3 separate regions of the Homo sapiens genome follow, and regions 1 and 3 are each linked to region 2. The links come from fine-mapping of genetic effects on gene expression. A gene starts in region 2. Each other region holds a variant in brackets. All regions are shown on one strand. Distances are between the middles of the regions.

Evidence for each region. PIP is the estimated chance that this variant, and not a neighbour inherited with it, causes the effect.
Region 1: its variant is the best candidate, but not a certain one, in a credible set for the expression of MASTL in tibial artery (GTEx, PIP 0.74).
Region 3: its variant is the best candidate, but not a certain one, in a credible set for the expression of MASTL in tibial artery (GTEx, PIP 0.89).

What each region holds. Positions count from the first base shown.
Region 1 is chr10:27,070,110-27,080,232 of GRCh38, reverse strand. It overlaps ANKRD26 (ankyrin repeat domain containing 26), which reads left to right. Exons shown (of 34, transcript NM_014915.3): 7 at 1,072-1,144; 8 at 2,540-2,600; 9 at 2,693-2,895. Among named protein-coding and RNA genes, the nearest start is that of ANKRD26, 25 kb to the left of the region's middle. RefSeq lists enhancers at 2,047-2,216, 7,180-7,713. The variant G/T (reference allele first, on the strand shown) is at 4,395.
Region 2 is chr10:27,148,016-27,158,138 of GRCh38, reverse strand. It overlaps MASTL (microtubule associated serine/threonine kinase like), which reads right to left and starts at 2,787. Exons shown (of 12, transcript NM_001172303.3): 1 at 2,527-2,787. The coding sequence starts at 2,712. It overlaps YME1L1 (YME1 like 1 ATPase), which reads left to right and starts at 3,755. Exons shown (of 19, transcript NM_014263.4): 1 at 3,755-3,961; 2 at 9,099-9,233. The coding sequence starts at 3,929. RefSeq lists enhancers at 2,096-2,345, 2,966-3,025 and silencers at 2,700-2,898, 2,696-2,905.
Region 3 is chr10:27,187,353-27,197,475 of GRCh38, reverse strand. It overlaps MASTL (microtubule associated serine/threonine kinase like), which reads right to left. Exons shown (of 12, transcript NM_001172303.3): 12 at 9,523-10,123. It overlaps ACBD5 (acyl-CoA binding domain containing 5), which reads left to right. Exons shown (of 13, transcript NM_145698.5): 13 at 34-2,262. The coding sequence ends at 46. It also overlaps the pseudogene RNU2-24P. Among named protein-coding and RNA genes, the nearest start is that of MASTL, 37 kb to the right of the region's middle. The variant C/T (reference allele first, on the strand shown) is at 6,108.

The sequences.
Region 1 (10,123 bases), 78 kb after region 2:
GGACAGTGTATCTTTCTACCTTGTTTTATGTATTTATTTATTTATTTATTTTATTTTATTTTATTTTATTTTTTTTGAGACAAAGTCTTGCACTGTTGCCCAGGCTGGAGTGCTACAGCATGATCTCAGCTCACTGCAATCTCTGCTTCCTGGGTTCACACAATTCTTCTGCCTCCACCTCCCAAGTAGCTGGGACCACAGGTACACACCACCACACCCAGCTAATTCTTTGTATTTTTAGTAGAGACAGAGTTTCACTATGTTGGTCAGACTGGCCTTGAACTCCTGACCTCGTGATCTGCCCGCCTCGGCCTCCCAAAGTGCTGAGATTACAGGGATGAGCCACCGTGCCCAGCCTATTTATTTATTTTTATTTTTTTGAGACAGTGTCTTGCTGTGTCACCCAGGCTGGAGTGCAGTGGCATGATCTCGGCTCACTGCAATCTCTGCCTCCCGGGTTCAAGCAATTCTCTTGCCCCAGCCTCCTTAGTAGCTGGGATTACAGGCACATGCCACCACGCCTGGTTAATTTTTGTATTTTAGTAGAGACAGGGTTTCGCCATGTTGGCCAGGCTGATCTCGAACTCCTGGGCTCAAGTTATCTTCCTGCCTCCGCCTCCCAAAGTTCTGGGATTACAGGCACGAGCCACCGCATCTGATCTCCACCTTGTTTTAGATTATCAGGTTTGTGCTGGTTCAGGTAACGAAAGTTATATCAGCCATTAATTGGATTTTCAGTTCAGCCTTCGGGACAATTTGTGAAGACAAAGTATTCCCAGGTTCTGCCATTATCTTGGCTGTCACTATTAGTTATAGAACTAAGGTTGAGTCTTTATCGAATATTTTATAGTTTCGGAGAGGTAGAGGCAGCAATTGGTAACTAAAATATTTTTCAAAAACAAGATCAAATTTTAATTAGATCAAGAAACATCATTTAATATGCAGACAGTTGACCTTTCACCAGGTTTTTGTTTTTTTGGAGGGGGCATCCAGATTGAAAATTGTAAGCTGGTTTTTGTTTTGTTTTTAAAGAAATGAATTCACTCATTTTTCTATATTTTTGTTCTAAAGGCTTTCTGGCAAACCGGGTGTTGATGATTCATGGCCTACCTCAGATGACGAAGACCTCAATTTTGATACTAAGGTAAAGTGCTCTCTCATGAACTTAATTTTCTTACTCTGAATCTAGTTTCGTATAGTATTCTCTTAAAATTTTGCAGTGGTCTACTTATCATTGTTTTCTGTTTGTAATGGAAAGGTGGTCAGGGGAAGCCATTTTATAGAAATATGGCCAGTTGAATTCTTTTTTTTTTTTTTTTTTTACTTTGGTAAATAACAAAGGATTGATAAGTACTTTGAGGGAGTGGGGATTGCAAAAAAAAGAATATACTGGAAAATACATAGTGACAGGAAAATTATATTGGGAAAAGTTTTCCTACAATAGAGGAAATATGAAATTTGGTCAAAGTTTATATGGATAAGCACTCCTACTATGATTTTAAAATCTTTTTCCATTTTTCTCTCTCTGTAGTAAGAATGTTACAGCTTTCAGGTAGTAGTAGATGATCATTTTTAACTAATTGGATGACTTAAAATTAAACTGTTTACTACAGAAGTATTTTTTAAAAAACTGGTTGTAAATACTAATCAGTATTATCAGGGATATCCTATGAACAAAAGTCTGTTACAGGTCTGTGTTTCTCAGTGTGCCTTAGTATACTTAAAGCCTTTCCTTTTCTTCCTTGACTTAAGCTCACACTCGAATGGTCATGCCTCTATTTTTTTTCTCCCTACTCTTTCATCTTTTAAAAATGATTTATCTCAGCCTAAATGTTTCCTTGCAGAATACATTTCTTCAGTTCTGTTATTTCAGTCCATGTCTGTCTCCATTTGCAGCATATTTAGGTGCAGCTTTCTATTTATGTAGTTATGTGTGGCTTTTGTTCAGCAATCATTGCCCCACAAGGATTATTTTTGTTTTTTTCTCTGTTTCTTGTAAGGAGCTGAATTTATACAATCATTTATTTTTAGCTTTTTGACAGAATAGAAGCAGCCTATACTATTTGCAGTGCCAACCCACTTTCATAAAATATACTAAGAACAAAATGCTCACAGTTTTTCTCACAAGAGGTAATTCATGCAAATATAAATCATGCATACACATTTCAGAAAATAATATGTAATTAATTTAAATGTTTTAATGTTTGACTTTTATAATACTCTACCTAGGAAAAAATTTTCATTTTAGGCTACTGTGGTTAAGAAAATAATCGAACAGATATCATAGTATTTATATAATAATCAATTAGGGGTAAGGGGAGTAACCTTTGGAGGATATCTGTATCATCTCTCATAATCCTTACCCCATGAGAAGATGTAGCAAAGGGCAGAACTGAGGTTTAAATCTACATCTGAGTGACTCCAAAATCTTTGTTCTTTGTGTTAGATCATGTAGTAATGGTGACTATCTATTACGATTATTTTATCAAATTTGATACTTGTTTTTTTAAAACTTGTTATTCTTATTTTTGTTTTCTAGAATGTCCCAAAACCAAGCTTAGCAAAGCTAATGACTGCTTCTCAGCAATCCAGGAAAAATTGTAAGCTGTTTGAAAACTGCTTATTCTTGTGTTATTCACTGATTCTTAATTACATATATTTTCATTTACTCTTTATTTTGTTTTTACTGTAGTAGAAGCAACATATGGCACTGTGAGAACAGGAAATAGAACTTTGTTTGAGGATAGAGATTCCGATAGTCAAGATGAAGTTGTGGTTGAAAGCCTTCCTACAACATCAATCAAAGTCCAGTGCTTTTCTCATCCTACCTATCAATCACCTGACCTTCTTCCAAAACCTTCCCACAAGTCGTTAGCAAACCCTGGTCTTATGAAGGTAAGTTGTTTTTTAAAAAACTTTTTTCATGTACCCTTCCCCTGCCCCAACAATCCTCATAATGATGCATCTATTGAGATGATCATACAGTTTTTGTTTCTAATTATGTTTATGTGATGAATCACATTTAAGACTTGCATATGTTGAACCATCCCTGCATCCTTGAAATGAAACCCACTTGATCATGGTGAATTATTACTTTGTGATGTGCTGTTGGATTCGGTTTGCTAGTATTTTCTTGAGGATTTTTGTATCTATATTCATCAGAGATATTGGTCTGCAGTTTTCTTTTTTTGTTATGTCCTTTTCTGGCTTTGGTATTAGGGTGATACTGGCTTTATAGAATGAGTTAGGGAGGATTTCCCCCTTCTCAACCTTTTGGAGTAGTTTCAGTAGAATTGTTATCAGTTCTTTTTTGAATGTCTGGTAGAATTTAGCTGTGAATCCGTGTGGCCCTGGGTTTTTTTCTTGTTGGCGGTTTTAAAATTACTGATTCAATCTCACTGCTTATTACTGGTCTGTTCAGGATTTCTATTTTTTCCTAATTCAAGCTAGAGGAGTTACGTGTTTCCCGGAATTTTTCAGTTTCCTCTAGATTTTCTAGTTTGTGTGCATAGAGGTTTTTATAGTAGTCTTGAGCTATCTTTTGTATTTCGGTGGTATCAGTTATACTGTCTCCACATTCATTCCTACTTGAGCTTATTTGAATCTTCTCTCTTTTCTTAGTTAATGTAGCTAGTGGTCTATCAACTGTGTATCTTTTAAAAAAAAGCTACTGGGCACGGTGGCTCACACCTGTAATCCCAGCACTTTGGGAGGCCTAGACGGGCAGATCACCTGAGGTCAGGAGTTCGAGACCAGCCTGGCCAACATGGTGAAACTCCGTCTCTACTAAAAATACAGAAAAATTAGCCAGGCATGGTGGTGGGTGCCTGTAATCCCAGCTACTTGGGAGGCTGAGGCAGGAGAATCACTTGAACCTAGGAGGTGGAGGTTGCAGTGAGCCAAGATCACGCCATTGCACTTCAGCCTGGGTGACAAGAGTGAAATTCCATCTAAAAAAAAAAAAAAACCAAACAAACAAAAAACAAACTTTTTGTTTCATTGATCTTTTATATTGTGTTTTTGGTTATAAATACATTTAGCTCTGCTCTGATCTTTGTTATTTCATTTCTTCTGCTAGCTTTGGGTTTGGTTTGTCCTTGTTTCTCTAATTTCCTGAGGTGTGATGTTAGTACTGATTTGCTGTAAGAGGTTTTGATAATTTGTAGCACTGTTATTTATTTCAAAACATTTTAAAATTTCCTTCTTGATTTTATTATTAACTCCGAAATCAGGAGCAGATCATTAAGTTAAATGGGAATTACCATATGTTTGTATAATTTTGAGGGTTCCTTTTGGAATTGATTTCTATGTATTCTGCTGTGGTCTGAGAAGATACTTCATATGATTTCAGTTTTTTAAAATTTATTAAGACTTGTTTTGTGGCCTATCATATG[G/T]TCTATCTTGGAGAATGTTCCATATGCCTATTAAAAGCATGTATATTCTGCAGTTCTCAGGTAGAATGTTTGGTAAATATCTGTTAGATTCATTTGTTCTTGAGTGCAGTTTAAGTCCAATGTTTCTTTGTTGGCTTTCTACCTTGATGACCTGTCTAGTGCTGTCAGTGGAGTGTTGAAGTCCTGTACTATTATTGTGTGGCTATCTCTTTTCTTAGGTTTTCTTAGGTCTAGTAGTAATTGTTTTATTAATCTGGGAGCTCTGAAGATAGGTGCGTATATATTTAGGATTCTTAGATCTTCTTGTTGAATCGATCCTTTTATCGTTATATAGTGACAATTTTTATCTACTTTTACTGTTGTTGCTTTAAACTCTGTTTTATCTGATATAGGAATAGCTACTCCTGCTCACTTTTGGTTTCTCTTTGTGTGAAATATCTTTTTCCACCCCTTTATCTTGAGAGTATAGGAATCCTTACATGATAGGTGTGTCTCCTGAAAACAGCAGAGAATTTGGCTTGTGATTTTTAAAAATCCATTCTGCCAACCTGCATCTTTTAAGTGGAGCATTTAGACCATTTACTTCAATGGTAATATTGAGATCTGAGGTACTGTTCCAGTCATTGTGTTGATTGTTACCTAGTGACTTTGTTTCCTCCATTATGTTATTGTTTTATAAACTTTGTGAATTGTATGCTTTCAGAAGTTTCTATTCTGTTATGTATCAACCTTTTATTTCAACATTGAGAACTTTTATAAATATTTCTTGTAGGGCTGGTCTAGTATTGACAGATTCCCTCAGCATTTGCTTGTTCAAGAAAGACTTTATTTTTCCTTCATTTATGAAACTTAGTTTTGCTTGATACAGAATTCTTGGCTGATGATTTTTTTCCTATTTAAGGAGACTATAGATAGGACTCCAGTCCCTCCTGGCTTGTTAAGGTTTCTGCTGAGAAGTCTGCTGTTAGTCTGATAGGTTTTCCTTTACAGGTTATTTTTAAAAATTCTTTTTATTTAATCTTATTTATTTATTTTATTTTATTCTTTTTATTTTTGTCTGATTGGATTAATTTGAAAGCCTTGTCTTCAAACCCTAAAGTTCTTACTTCTATTTGGCATAGCCTACTGTTAAAACTTCCCACTACTTTTTTTCTTTTCCCCCCTCGAGACAGAGTCTCTCTGTCACCCAGGCTGGAGTAGTGTGATCTCAGCTCACTGCAACCTCCACCCCCTGGGTTCAAGCACTTCTCCTGCTTCAGCCCCCCTAGTAGCTAGGATTACAGGTATACGCTACCATGTCCAGCTAATTTTTGTATTTTTAGTAGAGACAGGGTTTCGCCATGTTGGCCAGGGTGGTCTCAAACTCCTGACCTCAAGCGATCCACCCACCTTGGCCTCCCAAAGTGCTGGGATTGCAGCCGTGAGCCACCATGCCCAGCCCCCCACTACATTTTGTAGTTCCCTAAATGTGTCTTTCATTTCCAGAAGTTCTGATTGGTTTTTCTTTAAAATATCTTTCTCTTTAGAAAATTTTTCATTAAGATCCTGAATTGTTTTTAAAAATTTCTTTATGTTGGTTTTTACCTTGCCCTTGTATATTCTTGAGTAACTTAATAATCAACCTTTTGAATTCTTTATCTGGTATTTCAAAGATTTCATCTTGTTTTGTATCCATTGCTGGAGAGTTAGTGTGATCTTTTAGGGGGATTATAGAATGCTGTTTTTTCATATTACCAGAATTATTTTTCTGGTTCCTTCTAATTTGGGTGGACTATTTCTTGTAATTATTTTTGAATTTATTTTTGATTTGACTGGGTTTTTTTTTATTTATTTTTCCCCCCTTGAGGATGTGACTTGAATGTCTATAGTTTATTGTCACCTAGCTTCAGCTCTGGGTGCTTTCAGTAGTGAAGACCTTGTAGTAGTGAGCTCCTTCGTTACAGAGAATCTTTGTGTGATGATTTTCTCAGATGTTGGTAGTAATAACGATGTACTGGGTCTGTGAGCAGGTTTACTGTTTCCTGTGGGACTGGAATGGCAGAAGTCTCACGAATCTTATCTCATTCTCCAGTGTTGTGCACTTAAAAATTCAGATGCCTACTCTGTTTCCTAAAACATTTTTTTCCCCAGTATTTTATTTACTGGATTGAACATTTCAGGCCTCAGGCTGAAGGAGCCCATGGGTAAAAACTGGTTGCAGCTAAAGCAGGTGGATAAATGCAGTACCCCAAGTTTGGCCTTGACAAATGTGGCAGGGGGAGCTCTCAGTGATATGCACTAAAGTGTTTTCAGGGGGAAGGGAGGGAGCCACAGGAAAGCAGTCTGCCTCCCAGTCACACTCTTGACCAGGTGTTCCAGCTAATCAGATCAGACAGGCACCTTTTTTAATCTTCAGGAATACTGATGTTCCATATAGAGAGGGATTGTGGTCCTCATGCAAGCCTGAACGTGGAGGGCAGTCCTGTGGGATGCAGTCACCCTGAAGTGCTTCAGGAAGGCTGTCTACAGATGCACGCACATCATGCTGTCGTGGGAAAAGCCCCAGCTGTGTCTGCAGTGGTGGGCAAGAGGGAGAAGTTCTCTTCTCCAAGACCCTTCACATGCCCCAGGGCTACCTGTTAAGGGAAAGCCTTAGATTTTCTCCACTGAGCCCAGCACTGCACCTGTCCCTCTGCTGAAGGAAACTTCCCACAAGCGGAAGGCCTGCAGTCTGGTTTCTTTTTTTCCCATGGGGTGCCCTCTCAATGTGGTGCATTCCTTCCCCTGGGAGTAGCAGCCCCTGAGAACCTGGCTGCTGTGAATCCTGCTGCTCCTCTGGGTCTAGCCACCCAGTGGGCTGCCATACTCCAGGGTGGTGCTGGGGAATGTCTGCAAGGGATCCAGTGAGATGACCTGTCCTCGAGTCTCCCAGCAGCGGGTACCAGCACCTGCTCTGATAGGGTGGGAAGGGGAATGATGTAGACTCTGTGAGATTTCCTGCATTACAAATAGCCTTTGTGTGTTTTTTCAAATGCCAGCTGTAGTATTAATGTGCTGGGCACATAGACAGTTGCAGGACCTCCTGGTTAGCCAGAAAGATGCAGGCAGTGGTGATTAACTGAAGATGCACAGAAGTTTCCTACTTCCTTGGTGCTGTGTCATTGTGCTTGCAGACGTTGTGATGGGCTGTGCTTGTTGAGTTTTAGCCAGGAGGTGGCGCTTGCAAAAGAGCGCCAGTTGCAGTGGTAGTGGTGGGATTTGATTGCCTTAGGTTACCCAAGGGAAATACTCTGGAGTCTCAGACAATGGTTGGGGCCATGGATCTCCCAAAAGTCCCTGTCCATTGTGTTATGCTACCATGGCAGGTGGAGGGCAAAGCCGGGTGGGGGCTGGGTGAGGCCAGTCCACACTCTGGCTCCCCACATGTGGGTGCAAGCAGTGGAGCGGCCCCATTGGGGATCAGAGGGCAGTTCCCTGGCTGCTAGAGTAGTGTTCCAGGGAGAAGCTCAGCTGCCTCTGCTGCACAAAAGAATCCACAGAAGGAGCTGGGGATATCAGGCAACAGTATGTCTCATGCAGCACGGGCTTGGCAAGGCAGGTCTCACGCCTATAGGGTTCTGCTGGCAGCAGCAAGCTGGATTCCAGTCAGCTTGTGCTTGGAACTCAAAATTGTCCCAGGCCATAAGCCTTCCTGAGGGACAGAAACCGCACTTTCAAGCCATGCCCCTCCTGATCCGCCTGTGGAACAAGGGGCATCCAGCTCCTGCAGCCTGGGCACACTTCTTGTTCACCCTGTGGTTCTGGCCGATGGGGTTATCCCCACTCAAGATGATATGGCAGCTCTCATTTGGGAGCTTCTCTCCACCTGTGATGGCAGCCTGGGTCAGCTGGCTGACTTCCGGCAGGACGCCTGTGAGGTAGGATCAAGAATGGCTTCCCTCTGTCCCTCCTGGAGTCAGGGAATGCATGCAATGTATATGGGGATGCCGCTTTTTCTTGTGTGCCCCCACTGCTCACTCAGTCAGCTCCAGCGCGGGGGGAGTTAGGGCTTCCCCGTGGCCTGGATTGCCGGGCTTCCCAGTGGAAGTGTGTTCCAGGGACCATCTCTCCCGTTCACACTCTAGAGGCTCACGATTTTCTACCTGGTTCATCGTGTACACTGCTGCCCGCCTGTTCTTTCACAGGGTCTCTGGTTTCTTTAAGTTTTTCTGTTAAGGTCCTGTGTTGCTTCTTGGAAAAAAGTTTGCAGCGCAAATCCCTACACACTATTTTGCCTTTCCAAGAGGGAGAGTCTTGGTCACAGTGCCTCCCATCTGTCATCTTGGGAAAAAAATTAGGGAAAATTAATTTTAGTATAAGCATTGTTAGAGAAATGAATGTAGTCCCGGCCGGGTGTGGTGGCTCATGCCTGTAATCCCAGCACTTTGGCAAGCCGAGGCGGGCGGATCACGAGGTCAGGAGATCGAGACCATCCTGGCCAACACGGTGAAACCCCGTCCCTACTAAAAAAAAAAAAAATACAAAAAATTAGCCGGGCTTGGTGGCGGGCGCCTGTAGTCCCAGCTCCTCGGGAGGCTGAGGCAGGAGAATGGCGTGAACCTGGGAGGCAGAGCTTGCAGTGAGCCGAGATCGCGCCACTGCACTCCAGCCTGGGCGACAAAGCGAGACTCTGTCTCAAAAAAAAAAAAAAAAAAAAAAAATGAATGTAGCAATTGTTTATTTCTGCAATATTCTGATTTATCTTGTGCTAATAATTAATATCTGTATGTAATGGACACATACGCATACACCAAATGAAAGCGGTCAAAATTTATTATTGTTTTCTAAAATAAACTACCTATTATAGAATCATAAGGAAGGAAAGATTGCCAAGGGAGTTTACAAAATTATCTCTAGGCTGGACATGGTGGTTCACACCTGCAATCCCAGCACTTTGGGAGGCCAAGGCGGGCAGATTATGAGGTCAGGAGTTCGAGACCAGCCTGGCCAATATGGTGAAACCCTGTCTCTACTAAAGATACAAAAAATTAGCCGGGCGTGGTGGCACGTGCCTATAATCCCAGCTACTCAGGGGGCTGAGTCAAGAGAATTGCTTGAACCCAGGAGGTGGAGGTTGCAGTGAGCCAAGATCGTGCCATTGTACTCCATTCTGGGCGACAGGGCGAGACTCCATCTCAAAAAAAAAAAAAATCTCTAGAAGATGATTTTTTACTTTTAAAAGTACCTCCAGCAATGAGGACATTTTATATTCTCGTCAGGAAGCTTTGTTAACTTTAGTATTCATAGTTGTTAAACCTTGCTCATAAATTCATTCATCTCTAAAACTCAGAATCCTGTTGACTTGATTTTTTAGTCCTTTTCTGTGTGTGAATACTGGTCTTGCTTGATAATCATAGATATATTTGAAGACTTTTAAATCTTCAACTTGGATAATCATAGCTTTCTTTTCTTTTGTTTTTTGAGACGGAGTCTTGCTCTGTCGCCTAGGCTGGAGTGCAGTGGCGGGATCTCAGCTTGTTGCAACCTCTGCTTCCTGGGTTCAAGCAGTTCTTGTGCCTCTGCATTCTGAGTAGCTGGGACTACAAGTGTGTACTACCAAACATGGCTAATTTTTGTATTTTTAGTAGAGATGGGGTTTTGCTATGTTGGCTGGTCTTGAACACCTGGCCTCAAGTGATCCGCCCACCTCAGCCTCCCAAAGTGCTGGGATTACAGGCATGAGCCACCACGCCTGGCCTTTTTTTTTTTTT
Region 2 (10,123 bases):
TATCAGGAAAGCACGTACAAAAAATAGTTAAGACGGTTTAAAAAAATCTTCAAGATAGAATTGCTTATCTTGGTATTAAATGGCAGAAGTATCATAATCTCTTTCAAGAAGGAAAAAAAATTAAATATTCCCAGACTGCCCTGCATATTAATAGAAAAAAAATTCTGTTCCACTGTTCTGATAACGAAGTCAAAAGACAGTTACATTCCTCATAAGCCCACAGATAACTAGCACCTGGGCGTGGAGTAACTACTTAATTTTTTTTTTTAACTTCTGATTTTTTGATAGATGGGGATAGAATCAGAAAGAGGAAGAATGTCGGAAGTTTGCCTAGAAAAAAAAAATCTTAAGTTGGAATGATTAGAACTACTGAAATTTAACAGTCCCAAATGCTGTCTTACAGAAAACTAATTACTCTTTTCAAGTTTCAAGGTAATCTGTACAGAAACAGAACTATTAAAGTTGGAGCACTAAGAAAAATTAAAAATACATAAATAAATAAATAAAAATAAAGTTGGAGCACTAAACTGAATAGTCAGTAACACTGGGATCAATTCTCAGGACTGCTATAAGAAAAAAAGGCATATTTCTTTCAAAGATTTATTCGAGTACTTAATAAAATCATTAGTACATGATAAATTCCTGCCTTAACTCCTTTCTTTAAGAAAACTGAGGGAAACTGACAAAGCAAGCTGGTAACATGATTTTTCCTATCATTCCACTGGCTATGAGGGCATGTGTGTTTTGTTCCCCATTGTTGTCCAGTTCGTAGACACAAAGAGGGTGGGTGCTAAGCAAATACTGACTGAACACATGGATTGGTGTTTTCATTTCAACTGATCATGACTAAGTACTGTAGAAGGAAAAGTAAAAATCTCAGGAACATATAAAGTAACCAATTCAATCAGATCTTCCAATTCTGAAAGATTAGGGAAGGTGTGAAGGGGAGCTAAGATGAATCTTAATACATGAATAAGACAGGTGGAGAAGAGCACAAAAGGGTAGAAGAAAAGCACTTAAAAAGGAACCAGCATAAGGCCAGGCACGGTGGCTCACCCCTGTAATCCCAGCACTTTGGGAGGCTGAGGCGGGCAGATCACCTGAGCTCAGGAGTTTGAGACCAGCCTGCCCAAAATGGTGAAACCCCGTCTCTACTAAAAATACAAAAAATTAGCCCGGTGTGGTGGCGGGAATCCCAACTACTCGGGAGGCTGAGGCAGGAGACTCGCTTGAACCCGGGAAGTGGAGGTTGCAGTGAGCTGAGATCACGTCACTGTGAAACTCTATCTCAAAAAAAAAAAAAAAAAAATTCATAGCAGGGCAGGGCGCGGTGGCTCACACCTGTAATCCCAGCACTCTGGGAGGCCGATGTGGGCGGGTCACCTGAGGTCAGGAGCTCCAGACCAGCCTGGCCAACATAACCAAAACAACCTGGCTAAATTCAATCTCGGCTAAAAAAAAAACTACACAAATCAGCCAGGCATGGTGGCGCGCGCCTGTAATCCCAGCTACTCGGGAGGCTGAGACAGGAGAATCGCTTGAACCCAGGAGGCAGAGGCTGCAGGGAGCCGAGACTGCACCACAGCACTCCAGCCTGGGCGACAGAGAAAGACTGTCTTAAAAAAAAATTATTAAAGACTTCTCAGAAAATAGTAATCTTTCTTCTGGTTAAGAATAAAACTTAAAAAGTTATCAGTGCCTACAGATTAATCACTCTTCTGTGGTAGAAAAATTTCGACGATTCTGCACGTCAAAGCAAACAAGGTAAACAAAACCACTAATTACTAAAAACCTTTTGGATTTAGAAACCTAACTCGCCGGGCGCGGTGGCTCACGCCAGTAATCCCAGCACTTTGGGAGGCCGAGGCGGGCGGAATACGAGGTCAGGGAATCGAGACCATCCTGGCTAACACGGTGAAACCCCGTCTCTACTAAAGAAACCCCGTCTCTACTAAAAATACAAAAAATCAGCCGGGCGTGGTGACGGGCGCTTGTAGTCCCAGCTCGTCGGGAGGCCGAGGCAGGGGAATGGCGTGAACCCGGGGGGCGGAGCTTGCAGTGAGTCGAGATTGCGCCACTGCACTCCAGCCTGGGAAACAGAGCAAGACTCCGCCTCAAAAAAAAATAAAAAAGAAACCTAACTCAAGCCAGGGTGAGACTACGAATCACGGCTTTGGCTTTAAGTGCCTGTTGTACTAAGACCGATGTAATCACCTCGGTCAAGTCCCTTTGCCTTTGGCCTCAGTTTCCTCATTTGCTAACGCTGGGCAGGGAGAAGAGAGTCAAACTTTGCTGTTCTCACTGGGCATCTGAGATATGGAGGGAAGGGCGGAACAGAGGCGAGACACCCGACCCGACCGCTGATGTCGCCCCAAAAAGAAGTCAGCTCGCAGGGCTCTGGAGGCTTCAGCAAGCCAGGCCACCCAGACTCCTCGCTCCAGCAACCCCGGGGCCTGCCCAAGCCGGTGGGGCAGGAAGGAGGGCCGAAGGGCCTAACCCCTTCCTTGCTACTCGTTGACTTCCTACCTTTACTGCATACAATTTGCCGCCTTTCTGCCCCAGATACACTTTCCCGAAGGCGCCCCGGCTAATGGGCTTCACTATGCTGAATTCCTCAATGGAGGGCGGTTTTGGCACTGCGATCCTATTCACGCCCTCCTCAGTCGCCGCGCCTCCTCCAGGCTCCTTCTTGCTTCCCGCGGTGGGATCCATCGCTGGACAGCATACAGCGGCCCCGCAGACACTGCCCCTCCGCGAGCAGCCACTCCCGCCAACTGGGTTCAAAGTGAGGCTCCGCCCACGCCGCGCGCGGCCGTGACGTCACCCCGCCGCCGCGCCCCGCCCTCGTCACCTCCCCTACGCAGACGCGGACGGAGGGGGCGTCGGGAAAGCCCCGACTTCGCAGCCTTACACTCTTCGTGGGCGGCGACCGCGGCCCCACTGACATCATTCCTCATGAGGGAGGAGGCACAAACAGTTCTGGGCCGACCAGAAAAAGGACGACTGGGACTTGACTCTGAATCGCAGGATTTGAAGAGATTTCTCCTGGCTTCCCAACGAGGCTGGTGGGAAGCGGTCCTCCTCCCATACACGACCTCCCACCCTCGCGAGGCGTAGAAACCAGTTCTGACTGTACAGTAAAGCGAGGGCCAGGGCTGAGGTCTGGAAGCTAATGAAAGCACAGAAAGTGTCGAAACTGGATGAGCAGGAAGCGAGTGGCCTCCCCTGTCATCTGACGTTTTCCCAGGATGTAATTTGCCTGACTGAAACAGATCAGGACCAACAGGGAGAGTTTTCGATTTAGTGTGAGGAAAAGAGCACTAAATTGTAGCAAAAGACCTTATTGCTCAAGGCCCAGTCAGAAGATTTCATAAGGAAGCTGTAGAAAGTCTTAAGAGGAAATCAGCCGGGCGTGGTGGCGGGCACCTGTAATCCCAGCTACTCGGGAGGCTGAGGCAGGAGAATCGCTTGAACCCGGGGAGCAGAGGTTGCAGTGAGCCGAGATCGCGCCACTGTACGCCAGCCTGGGCGAAAGAACGAAACTCCGTCTCCAAAAAAAAAAAAAACGAAGAAAAAGTCCAAAGAGGGTAAAGGCTGTTCTCCCCTTAAAAAACAGCTAAAGACCTTTGGGGGCGCTGCTCCTTGTAAATGTCAACTACTTCCGCGGGAAAGAACGCGCAGGCACTTGGCCTTGTGGGCGCTCACTTGCCCCGGAAGTACTGTTGAGTTAGCGCCTCGCCTTCCGGGGCGGATTGTCTGTCGTTGCAGTAGCTGTAGGAAGGGGAGGCCATTTTCCGTTTCTGGGAGGAGTGAGGGGCAACGGGTCGGAGAAAAAGGAAAAAAGAAGGGCTCAGCGCCTCCCCGCCGGGCCGTGGACAGAGGGGCACAGTTTCGGCAGGCGGGTGAGGTCGCTGAGGGCCCGCCGGAGATGTTTTCCTTGTCGAGCACGGTGCAACCCCAGGTAAGCCAGGCATTCAGCCCATTTTTTTTCCTCCCGCCCTGCCCGTGGCTGTTTGCAAATTGCGCTCGTGGAAGCGATTTCTCAGAAGGGACTCTAGAAATGAAGTGATGTACTCAATGCGAATCCCAGGATTGAGGAGTGGATCAGGGGACGACGCTGAGAGTGGGCCGGAGACTTCAGTGCTGACGATGAAGCTGTTGAGGGCAGAGGCGGGATGTGAGCTCAGTGATAGAGAGAGACCCTGGCTTATCGAACTGATTGCGTGGAATTTCTGCTAGAGAATCCGTCCGGCATTGTTCAGTGTCCGGCGTTCTGGGGTGGGAAAATGTCTGTACCATACATTAAAGGGAGCAGGTAATGTTCCCTTTTTTCCGACTTTCCAGTGGCTTTAGTGTTCACAGCCCCTATCCCCTGCTCTTTATTTCCTTTTAAATGGAATTTAAATTTAACCCAAACATGGTATAATATTTCGGATGGCCAGCCATGCAAGTTTTTTTCTCATTTTGACCAGAAGTAACTAAAATGTGTATTTCCGAGTCGTAAACTGTTTGCAGTTAAAATTTTGATTCAGCCTCATCCTCATCGTTTTGTAAAACAAAAGGTAGTGAAGAGAAAAATGATTTCAAGGGTTTTCATTACGCTCTTGGGCAATCACTTGTGACAATGTTTTATTCTTGCTTCATTCCAGTCTCTTTTTTTGATGGTAACATTTTAATAGATTTTTTGAGAGTTCCTACAGTTTTGCAAAGAAATAGTTTTTAAAACATTGAGTTTTTTTAAAACATAATTTTTAAGAAAATCGACACTCTTAGGTTCTTGATTTAAGCATATGATTGTGTTCCTTTGTGTAACTTTTACTCCCCCTCATTTTAAGAATTTTTAATTTTTTGTGCTAGTACTGGCTAACAAACTGAAGCAGCTGCTTGTTATTGGGCATCAGTTATGTACCAGGTGAGCAAAGCAAATGTGGAATCTTCTCTTAATATTGATATGAAGTAAATATGAGTAGGACTTAGCAAGGTGAAGAGTGAACAGGTATCACAGGCATACAGAAAAATACCTGGAGGTCCTGAGTTAGGAAAGGGTTTAGCAGGTTGAAGGAACAAAAATAAGGCTAGTGTGGCTAGAACATAGTAGTTAAAGGGGGTAGTGACAGAAGAGGTTGGAGAAAAGACTTGAGGCAGATCATACAGGGAGTAAAGGATATATTATGGCTGATTTCATTTTAAGTGTATTGGGAACCATTGAAAGTTTTAAAACATGATTAGATTTTCATTTTTAAGAGATGACTGGCTTTTGCTATATGGAGAATAGGAGAGGGCAAGAGTGGAAGATGTTATCAGCTAAAAATACCCACCCACCCCCCAATTAAAGCTGTTGCAGTGGTTATGGAAAGAAGAGAATGAGATATATTTTGAAGAAAGTGGAATTGCATGAGAGATCAGAGAGATGATGGGGAGAGGTGTTTCTGGGTTTGATCAGATGAATGCATTGAAGGTGCTATTTACCAAGATGACAGTGTCTGGAGAAGTCCTAGTAATTGTTTGAAAAAGAAGTCTGACATGGCCTATTGAATATGGTATTGAAGTTTTTGAAACTCAACTCTTTGCCTTAGTTCACATCAAGAGGCCTGATTTTAGGAGAATTTACCATCAACTGAATGGACAGTTAGTAGTATGTGATGTTGGTAGAGATGATAAAGGGATTTTTATGTACCCTAGGCAGTCTTAACAGGGCTCAAATATAGTGAGGACTCTCAGGCATTTCTTGCTTTGAAGGATGGTAACACATTTGGAATTCCTTGTTGCTTAATTGGTTGAATACACTTGAAATTAAATGGTAAAAAGGAAGACACAGAAAATGAACTTTTTCATTGAGAAGAGCTCAACTCTAAATCCTTTTGTGAAAGAAAAGAGATATAACTAATTCAAATAAAAGAGATATAACTAATTCAAATAAATCTTTTCAAAGAGGTAGAAAATATGTATCTTGAAATGATTTGATTATTTTTAAAGTTTCAAAAGAAGTTACTGTTTATTTTTTTTTCTTTTTACTGCCCCCAGGCTGTAAGGAACTTACTGTTTCTTTCTGACTCTAAAAATGATACATTGCTTCACTTGACTAGCCTTAAAACAAATCCATGTTTTTTTGCTAAAAATGCTGAAAGTATAAATAAGATCGCCCATAATCTCATTACTCAGGGATACGTATCTTAGACTAAATTCTTTCACACATTTTTTTCTATAAACAAACACGGGTATGCATACTTTTTTTTATTTTAATTTTTTTTTTTTTTTAAGATGGAGTCTCGCTCTGTCGCCCAGGCTGGAGTGCAGTGGCGCGATCTCCGCTCACTGCAAGCTCCGCCTCCCAGGTTCACGCCATTCTCCTGCCTCAGCCTCCCAAGTAGCTGGGACCACAGGCGCCCGCCACCACGCCCGGCTAATTTTTTGTATTTTTAGTAGAGATGGGGTTTCACCGTGTTAGCCAGGATGGTCTCCATCCCCTGACCTTGTGATCCGTCCGCCTCGGCCTCCCAGAGTGCTGGGATTACAGGCGTGAGCCACCGCGCCCCCACGGGTATGCATACTTAAGGTAGTTTTACGGTCAGCTTTATTCCTTAGTATGTCACGAATTTATTTGTGTATCAATATCCATGGGATGAGAAGTCTGGAATTTTGAGTCAGATTCTAAATCTTTGTTGTCTTCATCTATTAAATGGTCTGTACCCACAATAATGGCGTTAGTCCATTGATGAGGGCAGAGCCCTCCTGAACTAAATGCCTCTTAAAGGTCCCACCTCTTAACAGGATTACAGTGGCAACTAAGTTTGCCATTGTTCTCAACTCAAACTTGAGTTTTGAAGGAGATAAACACTGGAATTTTTACTGGAAGTGGGCCCTGATCCAGACCCCAAGAGAGGGTTGTTGGATCTCGCACAAGAATTCGAGAGAGTCGCCAGGCGCGGGGACTCACGCATGTAATCCCAGCACTTTGGGAGGCAGAGGCGAGCGGATCACGAGGTCAGGAGATCAAGATCCTGGCTAACATGGTGAAACTCCATCTCTACTAAAAATACAAAAAAATAGCTGGGTGTGGTGGCCTGCGCCTGTAGTCCCAGCTACTCGGGAGGCTGAGGCAGGAGAATCACTCGAACCCAGGAGGCGGTGGTTGCAGTGAGCCGAGATTGCATCACTGCACTCCAGTCTGGGCGACAAAGCGAGATTCCATCTCAAAAAAAAAAAAAAAAAAAAAAAGGCGAGAGAGTCTATAAAGTGAAAGCAAGTTTATTAAGAAGGTAAAGGAGTAAAGAATGGGGTACTCCATAGGCAGAGGAGCTGCTTGGGCTTGTCCACGAAGGATACCTACAGTTAGTTATTTCTTGATTTTATGCTAAACAATGTGTGATTATTCATAAGTTTTCAGGGAAAGGGGGACCCCTAAGGTTCCTCCCCTTTTTAGACCACATAGGGTAACTTCTTGATGTTGCCATGGCATTTTTAAACTGTCATGGTCTGGTGGGAGTGTCTTTTAGCATGCTAATGCATTATAATTAGCACATAATGAGCAGTGAGGACTAGCAGAAGTCACTCTCCTCTCCATCTTAGTTTTGGTGGGATTTGGCTGGCTTCCTTACTACAACCTGTTTTATCATCACGGTCTTTATGACCTGTATCTTGTGCCCACACCCTATCTCATCCTGTAACTTAGAATGCCTAACCTCCTGGGAATGCAACCCAGTAGGTCTCAGCCTCATTTACCCTCATTTTGCCCCTACTCCAGATGGAGTCACTCTGGTTCAAAAGTCTCTGACAGAACTGTAACAAGAAGTATAATTGTTACTCATTATTATAGCTGTTTGAGGATTAAATGGGATGATAGAAGTAAAGCCTGTAGTACTAAACCTGGTATATAATAAGAACCCATTTAATGTATTCATTTACTCAACAAATATTTATTAAGTAAATTTTTTTTTTTCTTGAGACAGGGTCTTGCCATGTCATTCAGGCTGGAGTGTGGTGGCATGATAGCTCACTGCAGCTTCAACTTCCTGGGCTCAAGTGTTTTTTTTGTTTTCATTTTTATTTATTTATTTATTTTGAGATGGAGTTTTGCTCTTGTCACCCAGGCTGGAATGCAATGGCATGATCTTGGCTCACTGCAACCTCCGCCTCCCAGGTTCGAGTGATTCTCCTGCCTCTGCCTCCCAAGTATCTGGGATTACAGGCGCCCAACACCATTCCTGGCCAATTTTTTTGTATTTTTAGTGGCGATGGGATTTCACCACGTTGGCCAGGCTGGTCTCGAACTCCTGACCTCAGGTATCTACCTGCCTTGGCCTCCCAAAGTGCTGGGATTACAGGCATGAGCCACCATTCCCGGCCTACTTACTATTTTTTTTTTTTTAAATGTTGGATGTATTTCATTCTGTGGTAGTTTCTTTTTTTTTTTTTTTTTTTTTTTTTGAGAGACAGGTCTCACCCTGTTGCCCTGGCTAGAGTGCAGTGGCATGATCACAGCTCACTGCAACTTCCGCCTCCTGAGATCAAGCAATTCTTCTACCACAGCCTCCCAAGTAGCTGAGACTACAGGCGCACACCATCACACCCATCTAATTGTTGTATTTTTTGGTAGAGATGGGGTTTCACTGTGTTGGTCAGGCTGGTCTTGAACTCCTGACCTCAAGTGATCCACCCACCTCGGTCTCCCAAAGTGCTGGGGTTACAGGCGTGAGCCACTGCACTCGACCAGTGGTATCATTTGTTTTGCCGCTCCCCTAATGCTGGATGTTTCCAGCTTTCTACTATTTTTTAAATGTTTCGATGAGAGTTGTTCTCTATGCATGTGCAAGTACTTGTCAGATTATTTCCTTATAATAAATTCCTAGAAGGTGGATTGCTACAAACAAGAAATGTATGTATTTTTGATACTTTTGATTTACATATTCAGAATAATATCCTGAAAGAACATACCAGTTTTCGTCTCACCAGCAGTAAATCTGAGTACTTACAGTTTTTAGTATACAGAGTTGATATATAATGTACCTTTAACTCTTAACAAATCCTGACAAAAAAAGGAGATTGTTCTGTTTATTTAAAAAAAAACTACTTAGTTTTTAACTTTTATCTTTTTCTAGGTTACAGTTCCTCTGAGTCATCTCATCAATGCCTTCCATACACCAAAAAACACTTCTGTTTCTCTCAGTGGAGTGTCAGTTTCTCAAAACCAGCATCGAGATGTAGTTCCTGAGCATGAGGCTCCCAGCAGTGAGGTAAGTCTTTATCCTGGTTGTGTGAGAAAGCCTTTTTGATATACAGTTGACCCTTAAACAAATGAAGGATTAAGGATATTGTCCCTCCCCCGTAGTCAAAAATTTGAGTATAATTTTTGACTCCTGAGAAACTTAACTACTAATACCCTACTATTGACCAGGAAGCCTTACCGATAAAATAAAGGGTCCATTAACATATATTTTGTATATTTTATGTATTGTGTACTGTATTCTTACAATAAAGTAAGATGGAGAAAATGTTATTAAGAAAATCATAAGGAAGAGAAAACATATTTACCATTCATTAAGTAGAAGTGGACCATCATAAAGATCTTCATTATCTTCAAGTTGAGTGGGCTGAGGAGGAAGAGGAGGGGTTGGTTTTTCTGTCTCTGGTGGCAGAGACCGGAGAAAGTCCACGTATCTGTGGATCTGTGCAGCTTTAATCTGTGTTGTTCAAGGATCACCTGAGGTCAGGAGTTCAAGACTAGCCTGACCAATATGGTGAAATCCCATCTCTACTAGAAATACAAAAATTAGCCGGGTGTGGTGGCGTGCGCCTGTAGTCCCAGCTACTCAGGAGGCTGAGACAAGAGAATAGCTTGAGCCTAGGAGGCAGAGGTCGCTGTGAGCCAAGATCGCACCACTGCACTCCAGCCTGGGTGACAACAAGACTCTGTCTCAAAAATAAATAAATAAATAAATATAAAAATGTAATCTCATTTTTTGGTTTAATCTAAAAAAAAACACCTGTTTTTACAGGGAAGTGGAATAGGTAGGGATTTAAGAAGTAAATAAAACTCTTAAAAAAATAAAGGACCAGCAGATTTAGGGAGCAGCTCATACTTCTAGGGCTGAGATAGAGTCAGGAAGAGTTCTCCATCCCCAGG
Region 3 (10,123 bases), 39 kb before region 2:
CACAGGAAATTGGTTTTTATTTTCTTTTTAAAGAAAACTGAACTGAGGAAAATGGTGTTTTCCTCAAGAAGACTACTGGAACTGGATGACCTCAGAATGAACTGGATTGTGGTGTTCACAAGAAAATCTTAGTTTGTGATGATTACATTGCTTTTTGTTGTCCAGTAGTTTAGTTTGTGTACATATATACACATATATATTTTGCACTACACAAACGATAACATTTTAAGGACTAATATTGCTGATACTTGAATAATCAATCTCTACTAGGTTATAAGTAGTATACACAGATTTACCCTGCCCTTGAACTTGAAGGACATTAAATTATTAATGATCATTTGGTAACATGTTTACCTGATTATCTTCCATAGAGTAACATAAGCTGCTTTTCAAAGGTACCATTGTGATAATGAGATCAAATTTATAAGTTATTATTTTTAATTTTCTAAATTAAATAAAAGAAAGAATGCAAACCAGGAGTGAATTTCAAATGAGATGTAATCGACTTTATATCTTAGTCACGGAGTTGCCATGGCATGTAGTAGAAAACCACAGGAAGAATGGTCATATTCACTTTGTGGGCTGCCCATAATCTTTCTTGGGCATTCACAACTCTTGAGTTTGGTGTTCAGGCATCATTATTAAAAAGTGGAGTCCTATGTACCAGACTGAGTTTTTACAAATGATTTGCAGGCTAGACATAACCCACTGATGGAAATGGTGAAGAATGAGCTTCATGTAGGTTTAAAAGTGTATTCTGAGCCTGTAGATGATTAATCAGGTTTTTATTCAATCATATAAATGTATTCCTTTGTAATCATTTTTGTTTAACTGAGGATATCTAGTGTCTGCTTCATAGGGTGCTTTGAAATATAAAATGAAAACTTATTTATACTGTTTTTACAACAGTCAAAAAGGAAACACACGAAAATCACTTTTCTGCAACTGATGAACTATATAGACTGGACTCTTAACCTCTTAGTGCCTCAGTTTTTCCTTCGGGGTATACTATTTTAGATACACCTACTTCACAGGAGTACTGGAGGGATTTGCAAGCTAACGGGCCAAATGCTTCCATAGGAATAAGGCATGCCCAGCTAACAGAAATTTAAGTCCCTCTTCCCCACCTCTCTCATCTAGACCAAAAAGAAGACTACAATTTAGATCCTTGGAGACTTTTCCTGTATGCCTTCCAAAACTTCCTGCTCACTTAGATGTACCTTGTGCTTTGAAGATTTCTTTGATGCAGTCTTTGTAACAAATAATTTTTTTTTTTAAATGGAGTTTCTCTCTTGTTGCCCAGGCTGGAGGGCAATGGCGTGATCTTGGCTCACTGCAACTTCCACCTCCTGGGTTCAAGTGATTCTCCTGCCTCACTCCCAAGTAGCTGGGATTACAGGCATGCACCACCATGCCTGGCTAATTTTGTATTTTTAGTAGAGACGGGGTTTCTCCATGTTGGTAAGGCTGATCTCAAACTCCCAACCTCAGGTGATCTGCCTGCCTCGGCCTCCCAAAGTGCTGGGATTAGAGGCGTGAGCCACTGCACCTGGCCTGTAGCAAATAATTTTTAAGCATTCTCAAGATGTATGATGTTGGGTTTAACATCATATGTTCACAGTGTTTTAAATAAGAAATAATCTGTCTTTAGTATACAGAATGGTTCTTTGTTTGCCTGAAAAGTATAAGAATACAATTTACTTTTCCCAAACTCTTTTTCCTTATTTTTTTCTTTCAAATAACTTTAATTATTTAATCCCATACTGATTAAAATATGTCTGTCTAAAGGGATCTACTACTATTTGCTTTTAAAAAAGTGTTCCCTATTTATTTAGGAAAAAGTGAAGCAAGCAACTGAATTTATATGTAAAAATAACATTTAGACCTGTGGATCAAAGATTATTTTCAAAAATGAGATATCAATTTGGTATCAGTAAAAAGTGTCTTTTCTCTTAGTATATAAATAAATAAAATGCAAATTAAGAGTGTAAGCAGTTGTGAATCATTACAAGCAGTCTGGGATAACTAACTCCTAGGGATAACCATTTCTATCCTGTTCCAAAGTCTTATTTTATAGTTTGAAAAGCACTTTGCACACAGTTCTTGTATATAAAAGTAAAGATGTAATTATAGGATATAGTGTTCCTGCTTTGTTTAATAAGAACCTCATTTAAACTTGACAGCTATGGTATTTTTTTAATGATAACTTCTTTTCTGTTTATTGTAAAACTAAGTTAAAAATAAAAGGTTAATGAGAAATGATATGGCTTTTATTACTTGTTACTATTAGCCCATTGATTAGGTAAGAATTCAATGAGAGTAAGTAGTAGTCGCACATAAAGTAATTATGACTCTCAAAATAAAGCCATGCTATTCCACACAATTTGATAAAAATCAGAAACTGGGATGAAATTTAACTTATTTAGTCATCTGGTTGAGAATATTAGCAATCCAGTCAGATTCTTGGTTTTACTTTTTTTTGAGACAGAGTCTCGCTCTGTTGCCAGGCTAGAGTGCAGTGGCGTGATCTCGGCTCACTGCAACCTCCGCCTCTCAGGTTCAAGCGATTCTCCTGCCTCAGCCTCCCGAGTAGCTGGGAGTACAGGCACGTGCCACCACTCCCGGCTAATTTTTGTATTTTTAGTAGAGACGGGGTTTCACCACGTTGGCCAGGATGGTTTCCATCTCTTGACCTCGTGATCTACCCGCCTCGGCCTCCCAAAGTGCTGGGATGACAGGCGTGAGCCACTGCACCCAGCCGGTTTCAGTTCTTACACCAAATAAATAGCTTCCCACAGCCACACAATGAACCCTAATCAACCATCTTATTATTATTATTATTATTATTATTATTATTATTATTTGAGATGGAGTCTTGCTCTGCCGCCCAGGCTGGATTGCAGTGGTGTGATCTCAGCTTACTGCAACCTCTGCTTCCCAGGTTCCAGTGATTCTCCTGCCTCAGCCTCCCACATAGCTGGGATTACAGGCACCCACCACCACACCTGGCTAATTTTTTGTACGTTTAGTAGAGACGGGGTTTTGCCATGTTGGCTAGGCTGGTCTTGAACTCCTGACCTCAGGTGATCTTCCTGCCTCTGCCTCCCAAAGTGCTGGGATTACAGGCGTGAGTCACCGCACCCAGCCCTAATCAACCATCTTAAATACACATCTCTGGTCTTATGTGGAAAATGATGAGAGGGTTTTTTTTTTTTTTTTTAATTGAGACGGAGTTTCGCTCTGGTTGCCCAGGCTGGAGTGCAATGGTGCCGTCTCGGCTCACTGCAACCTCCACCTCCCAGGTTCAAGTGATTCTCCTGCCTCAGCCTCCTGAGTAGCTGGGATTACAGGCATATGCCACACTCCTGGCTAATATTTTGTATTTTTAGTAGAGACAGGGTTTCTCCATGTTGGTCAGTCTGGTCTTGAACTCCCAACCTCAGGTGATTCACCTGCCTCAGCCTCCCAAAATGCTGGGATTACAGGTGTGAGCCACCGCGCCTGGCCTGGGTTTTGTTTTTAATACCCATCTATGACTTGTAACTTCTACAGAGTAATAAAAGTGATGTATCATTTAAGGTATCATTATTCTGCTTCATGTAATAGAAACCCAGCTGTGGTGGCTTGACCAAGTAACTGGGTCTTTTCCTTCGATATAAGTCTGGAGATAGAAGTCCAGGGCCGGGAAGGTGCTTCCACAATGCCATTAGGTAGACAGGCTCCTCCTGTCTTTCTTTCTCCCATCTTTAGTGTGTAGCTTTTATCTTCATGCTTGCAAGATAGTGAAGTACATTTAGATCTAATGTCTACATTATAGGCAGGCACAGAGTGAAGCGCAGAAAGCAATTAACAGTTGTATTTTTCCATCTGATCAGGAAACAGTAACTTTCTTGAAAGTCCCACACAGGAGACTCCTCACATCTCATTGGCAAGAACTGGCTCTCATAGTTATATTTTTGTATACAAAATTATTTAATCACTTCTTAGCCTTTTGGCTAAGATCAAGGGTAGTATCAGTTCTTATCAGTTCTTTTTTTTTTTCTCTCTTTTGAGACAGAGTCTCGCTCTGTTGCCCAGGCTGGAGTGCAGTGGCGCAATCTCGGCTCACTGCAACCTCCGCCTCCCAGGTTCAAGCAATTCTCTTGCCTCAGCCTCTCAAGCTGGGATTACAGGTGCCAGACACGTTGCCTGGGTAATTTTTTTGTATTTTTAATAGAGACAGGGTTTCTCCATGTTGGCCAGGCTGGTCTCAAACTCAGGTGATTAACTTGCCGCTGCACTCCAGCTTGGGAAACAGAGCAAGACACACACACACACACACACACACACACACACACACACACACACACACACACACACACGAAGGAAGGAAAGAGAGAGAGGAAGGGAGGGAGGGAGGGAGGAAGGAAGAAAAGAAAGAAAAACATAAAAAAAGAGAAATAGAGAAATTTCCTCACTTGTTTCAATTCTTTAACATGTGTTGAAGAGAACTTTTTTTTTTTTTGAAACGGAGTCTCACTCTGTCACCCAGCAGGCTGGAGTGCAGTGGTGTGATCTCGTCTCACTGCAACCTCCATCTCCTGGGTTCAAGCAATTCTCTGCCTCAGCTTCCTGAGTAGCTGGGATTACAGGCGCCCGCCACCACGCCCGGCTAATTTTTGTATTTTTAGTACAGACAGGGTGTCACCATATTGGCCAGGCTGGTCTTGAACTCCTGACCTCGTGATCCACCCGCCTCGGCCTCCCAAAGTGCTGGGATTACTGCTGTGAGCCACTGTGCCAAGCCTGAAGAGAACTTTTTATACCTACATAAAATCAGGCAAGGGAGTATCAGTTATTTTTTAAATTTTACTGGTCACCCTTTCCCCTCTCTTCTGTCCCCTCCCCTCTTCCCTTGGAGCGCTCTTCCTCCTCCACGAGAATCCAGTGATTCTGGTGAGGCTGCTAAATGGAACACCCAGCTATGCCCATTGCTGCCCCATCGTGACTCACAGTAATGGACATGTGACTCAGCCTGGTCAGCTTATATCCCATTCTCCTGACCACAGTGACATCACAGTGATGGGCATAGAACCAGCAGTCAGTTACTCTCTGGGATTTATTTCATGGAACTAGGAGAGAGAGAGTGTTTAAGCCACCCCATCTCCAGCCCCCAGTAGACTTTTTTTTTCATTATTATAAATTTTTTTTTTCACAATCCCTACTTTGGATGTAGACTTAAAAAAAAAGTGTCAAGGAATGTATCCATTTCTTGTAGGTTTTCCAGTTTTTTGGCATATATTTATTCCCAGTAGTCTCTGATGATTCTTCATATTTCTGCGGTATCAGTTGTCCTGTCTCCTTTTCCATCTTTGATTTTATTTACTTGGGTATTCCTTTTTCTTAGTCTGGCTAAAGGTTTGTTGATTTTGTTTTCAAAGTAAACCAAGTTCATTTTTAAAAATCTTTTGTATTTTGGGGAGTTTCAGTTTCATTTGTTTCTGCTGTATCTTATTATTTCTTCTACTAATTTTGGGTTTGTTTTTGCTTTCCTAGTTAAGATGCGTTGTTAGGTTATTTATAGACTTTATTGTTATTATTTTTTTTTGATTCAGAGTTTCCCTCTCGTCACCCAGGCTGGAGTGCAGAGGTGCAATCTCTGCTCACTGCAACCTCTGCCTCCCGGGTTCAAGTGATTCCCCTTGCCTCAGCCTCCTGAGTAGCTGGGATCATTAGCACCCACCACCACACACCCAGCTAATTTTTTGTATTTTTGGTAGAGATGGGGTTTCACCATGTTGGCCAGGCTGGTCTTAAACTTCTGACCTCAGGTGACCTGCCTGCCTCGATCTCCCAAAGTGTTAGGCTTACAGGCGTGAGCCACCGCATCTGGCCATAGACTTTTTTAGAACTGTTTTAGGTTTACAACAATATCAAGTGGAAAGTAGAGCTCCCATATTCTACCCTCCTCTCCCCCCGCCCCACCTGCACAACCTCTTCCACCGTCAACATCTGGTGGAGTGGTACATTTGTTTCATCTGATGAACCAACATGGACATATCATTACCATGGGGCTCACTCTTAGTGTACATCCTATGAGTTTTGACAAATTTAAAATATGTATCCAC[C/T]ATTATATCATACAGAGTAGTTTCACTGCCCTAAAAAATCCTCTGTGCTCCACCTTGTCATCCTTCCCTCCTAACTTCTGGCAACCACAGATCCTTTTACTGTCTCTATAGTTGTGCCTTTTCTACAGTGTCGTATATTTGGAATCATACGGTGTGTCGCCTTGTCAGACTGGCTTCTTCCAGTTAGTAATATGCACTTAAGATTCATCTGTGTCTTTTCATTGTAGTTCATTTCTTCTTAGCGCTGAATAATAGCCCATTATATAGATGTGCCTCTGTTTATTCATTCACCTGTTGAAGGAAGAGTGTAAAAGAATTTGCAGACATACCATTTTTATTTGGAGGTGTCCAACTGATTTCTTGAATTCTTTATTTGGGTGTCTCACAGACATCTCAAACTTAGTATGTCTACCCATCCTGTCCCTCATTCCAGTTCAGGGTGCAGCACCACAATCCACCCAACTGCTCAAGCCAGAAGTTAGGTGTCAAATGTGGCTCTTCCATTCTCTCACCTGTCTCATCCCATATATCAGTAAAGTCCTGTTGCTCCTACCTCTAAAATATGTCTTGAATCCAGGTGGGCTGGTGCAGAAGCCTTTTATTCAGTCTCCTTCCTTCAAATGTTGTCCCGTACAATACACTTTCCACACAGTTAAAAGAATGACTCATCCATGGTTGGCTTGGTATTAATTGAAAGACCTGGTGTAAACAGTAAATATATTTGTACTATATTCTGGACTCTCAGCATTTTTATAAATGGCTAAAAATAAGACAGTTCTTTGTAGCAAATAGAGGAATTAGACCCGAATGTCCTTCAAGATGTTTTGGAGCATAATAGTAAGGCTTTATATAGTTACCACTTCCCGAACCCAAAATTAAAGTACATATTCCAGGAGGCAGTAGGGTACTTAGGGTTCAAATAATTATCATTTTATTAAACACCTTTTATGTTTGCTATGTACTTCATCTTACTTAATTCTAACATAGGTGGGCCAAGATAAACAGGACATTCTTCAAACATAATTTCTGGATTTGTTTAACATTTAATGGGGGTGGGACAAAACATTTTTAAATAATTTTTTTTGAGGCAGAGTCTCATTCTGTCACCCAGGCTGGAGTGCAATGGCGCCATTTTGGCTCACTGTAACCTCCACCTCCCAGGTTCAAGCAATTCTCCAGCTTCAGCCTCCCGAGCAGCTGGGATTACTGGCGCGCACCATCATGCCTGGCTAATTTTTATATTTTTAGTAGAGACGGGGTTTTACCATGTTGGCCAGGTTGGTCTCGAACTCCTGACCTCCTGTGATCCACTCGTCTCAGCCTCCCAAAGTGCTGAGATTACAGGCGTAAGCCACCATGCCCAGCCTAAAAAACAATTATTATTTTATTTTTTTAGATAAGTGTTTACTGATATTTTTATTTTGGAGCTCCAAAGGAAAACAAGTCACATCTATTATTTTGCATTTTTCATGTAAGAATAAAACATTTTCCTTTAACAGATACCAACTTATTTTTTCTTTTTACTCTTTTTCTAAATTCATCCAATAAACATTATGCCGTTGTGAAAACAAAAGTTTATTTATATATATATATATATATTTTTATTATACTTTAAGTTCTAGGGTACATGTGCACAACGTGCAGGTTTGTTACATATGTATACATGTGCCATGTTGGTGTGCTGCACCCATTAACTCGTCATTTACATTAGGTATATCTCCTAATGCTATCCCTCCCCCCCACCCCACAACAGGCCCCAGTGTGTGATGTTCCCCTTCCTATGTCCATGTGTTCTCATTGTTCAATTCCCACCTATGAGTGAGAACATGCGGTGTTTGGTTTTTTATCCTTGCGATAGTTTGCTGAGAATGACGGTTTTTAAAAAATTTAGATAGAGACAGGGTCTTGCTATGTTGGCCAGGGTAGTCTCTAACTCCTGGCCTCAAGCAATCATCCCACCTTGGCTGTCCAAAGTGCTGGAAATAAAGGCGTGAGCCACTATGCCCAGCCACAAATTATTTTTTATTAATACAAACTGTATATAGCTGGCCGGGTGGCTCACGCCTGTAATCCCAGCATTTTGGGAGGCTGAGGCGGGTGGATCACGAAGTCCGGAGTTTGAGACCAGCCTGGCCAACAAAGAACAATACATTTGTAGAGAAATGACAGGACAAAGGAAAGTGGTTTTAGGCTTCCAAGGACTGGAACCTTTGGGAAGGCAAACACTGTATGTGGGAGGAAACTAATTGAATAAGGTTTCTTTGCCAATTCCTCTGGTGCTGTCCCTGGTAGATAAGACTCTAGAATTGTCTCCAGCAAAGGAGAAGTTATATCCTGCCTTTGGGCAGAAAGGCAGGGGGATGGCGAGAGCTTTCCTCAGTTTGCTGCTTCTTAACTGCCTTTAGCTCAAAAATATTTTTATGTCAAAGAGGCATTTTAGGATGATATGTTCTGATTTCCTTCATAGCAAAAGATGAGTGGATTTCTATTGGTGGCCGTTGGTGTTTTTTAAAGACGTGCATGCACACATATACATCAGCTGTCAAAACCATCCCCTTTTTCCCATTGTTCTTTCCTCTTAGGTTTTTCCCTAGCAAGTGTCTGAATCTACATCTTGACAGGTATAAATTTAGATAATAAGTCACCTGTTCCCAATAAATACCATTACAGCATGCCTTACCTGTGGCTGAATTTCAAGTGACTATAGCTTCACATGCTAGGTCTGTTAGTAAACAGTGTAACTTTCCACTCAAGGCCATTGTCTTGTGCATTGGGAATATGCTCAGAGAACATTTCCCCGATTATTCAGTAATGTTTCAAGTCCCTGTTAAGGTTAATATCCTGGGTAGCAACTAAATTGGCTTGTTCCTCAATCTACTCTGTTCATTCCAACTCTCCAAATTAATCACTATTAATCCCCACTATACAGTGAGTCATCAATAGCTCAGTTTAACCTGCCAGAGGCCTTTTATTGTGGCAGAGCAGTGATTTCAACAATTTGTGTTTGATTCCCAAACTTTTTTTCTTTCTACTACTGGCAAATACCATAAAAGGATAATAGATAATTCTATGCTTTTGCCTAATTTAAGGGAAAGATGTAATTCAAAGTTTTGAACAACTGTATTTTGAACATTTTACTAGAAGTGACCATTAAATCTAAGTAGTTATTACTAAAACAAGCTCAGTAAAACCATTAACCCATGGATTCAGTTATATAGCACTAATTATAATGGTGTATCTTTCACTGTAACCATTTTAAATTTGTACATTTTGTCAACTACATTGCAACAGGGCTGTTGATTGGGATGGTAATGGAAAGTAAAAACACTAAACCCGATGTGCAAAAGGAACAAGTTTTTTTTCCCCCGGAAATGGGGTCTCGCTTTGTTGAAAAGAATGATGTTGACAGATAATGTACTTGTGATAGTTATATTTATTAAGCAAAAGAAAATTATGTTTTGTTTTTTAAGGACCAATCTGTTTCTGATAATGTTGCATGTTTTAAATAAATGACAATAAGATGTAAAGCATCACATTTTCTATTAAAATTGAACAAGCTATTCAAATTGCTACATTATATCACACCTAATTGTTCCAGTAGTATTTTTTTTTTTTTTGAGACTGAGTCTCATTCTGTTGCCCAGGCTGAAATGCAGTGATGTGATCTCAGCTCACTGCAATCTCCACCTCCTGGGTTCAAGCGATTCTCATGCCTCAGCCTCCCAAGTAGCTGGGACTACAGGTGTGCGTCACCATACCTGGCTAATTTTTCTATTTTTAGTAGAGACCAGGTTTTGCCATGTTGGCCAGGCTGGTCTCAAACTCCAGGCCTCAAGCGACTTGCCTGCCTCAGCCTCCCAAAGTGCCGGGATTACAGGCATGAGCCATCGCACCCGTCCTCCAGTACCATTTTAAACAAATACATATTGTGGACTACGCACCAATAGAAATTAAGGTGGCAAAACCGTATCATTAGTAAAGTAAGTGAAAGCCTTAGTCTTTTTGTTTATTCCTTA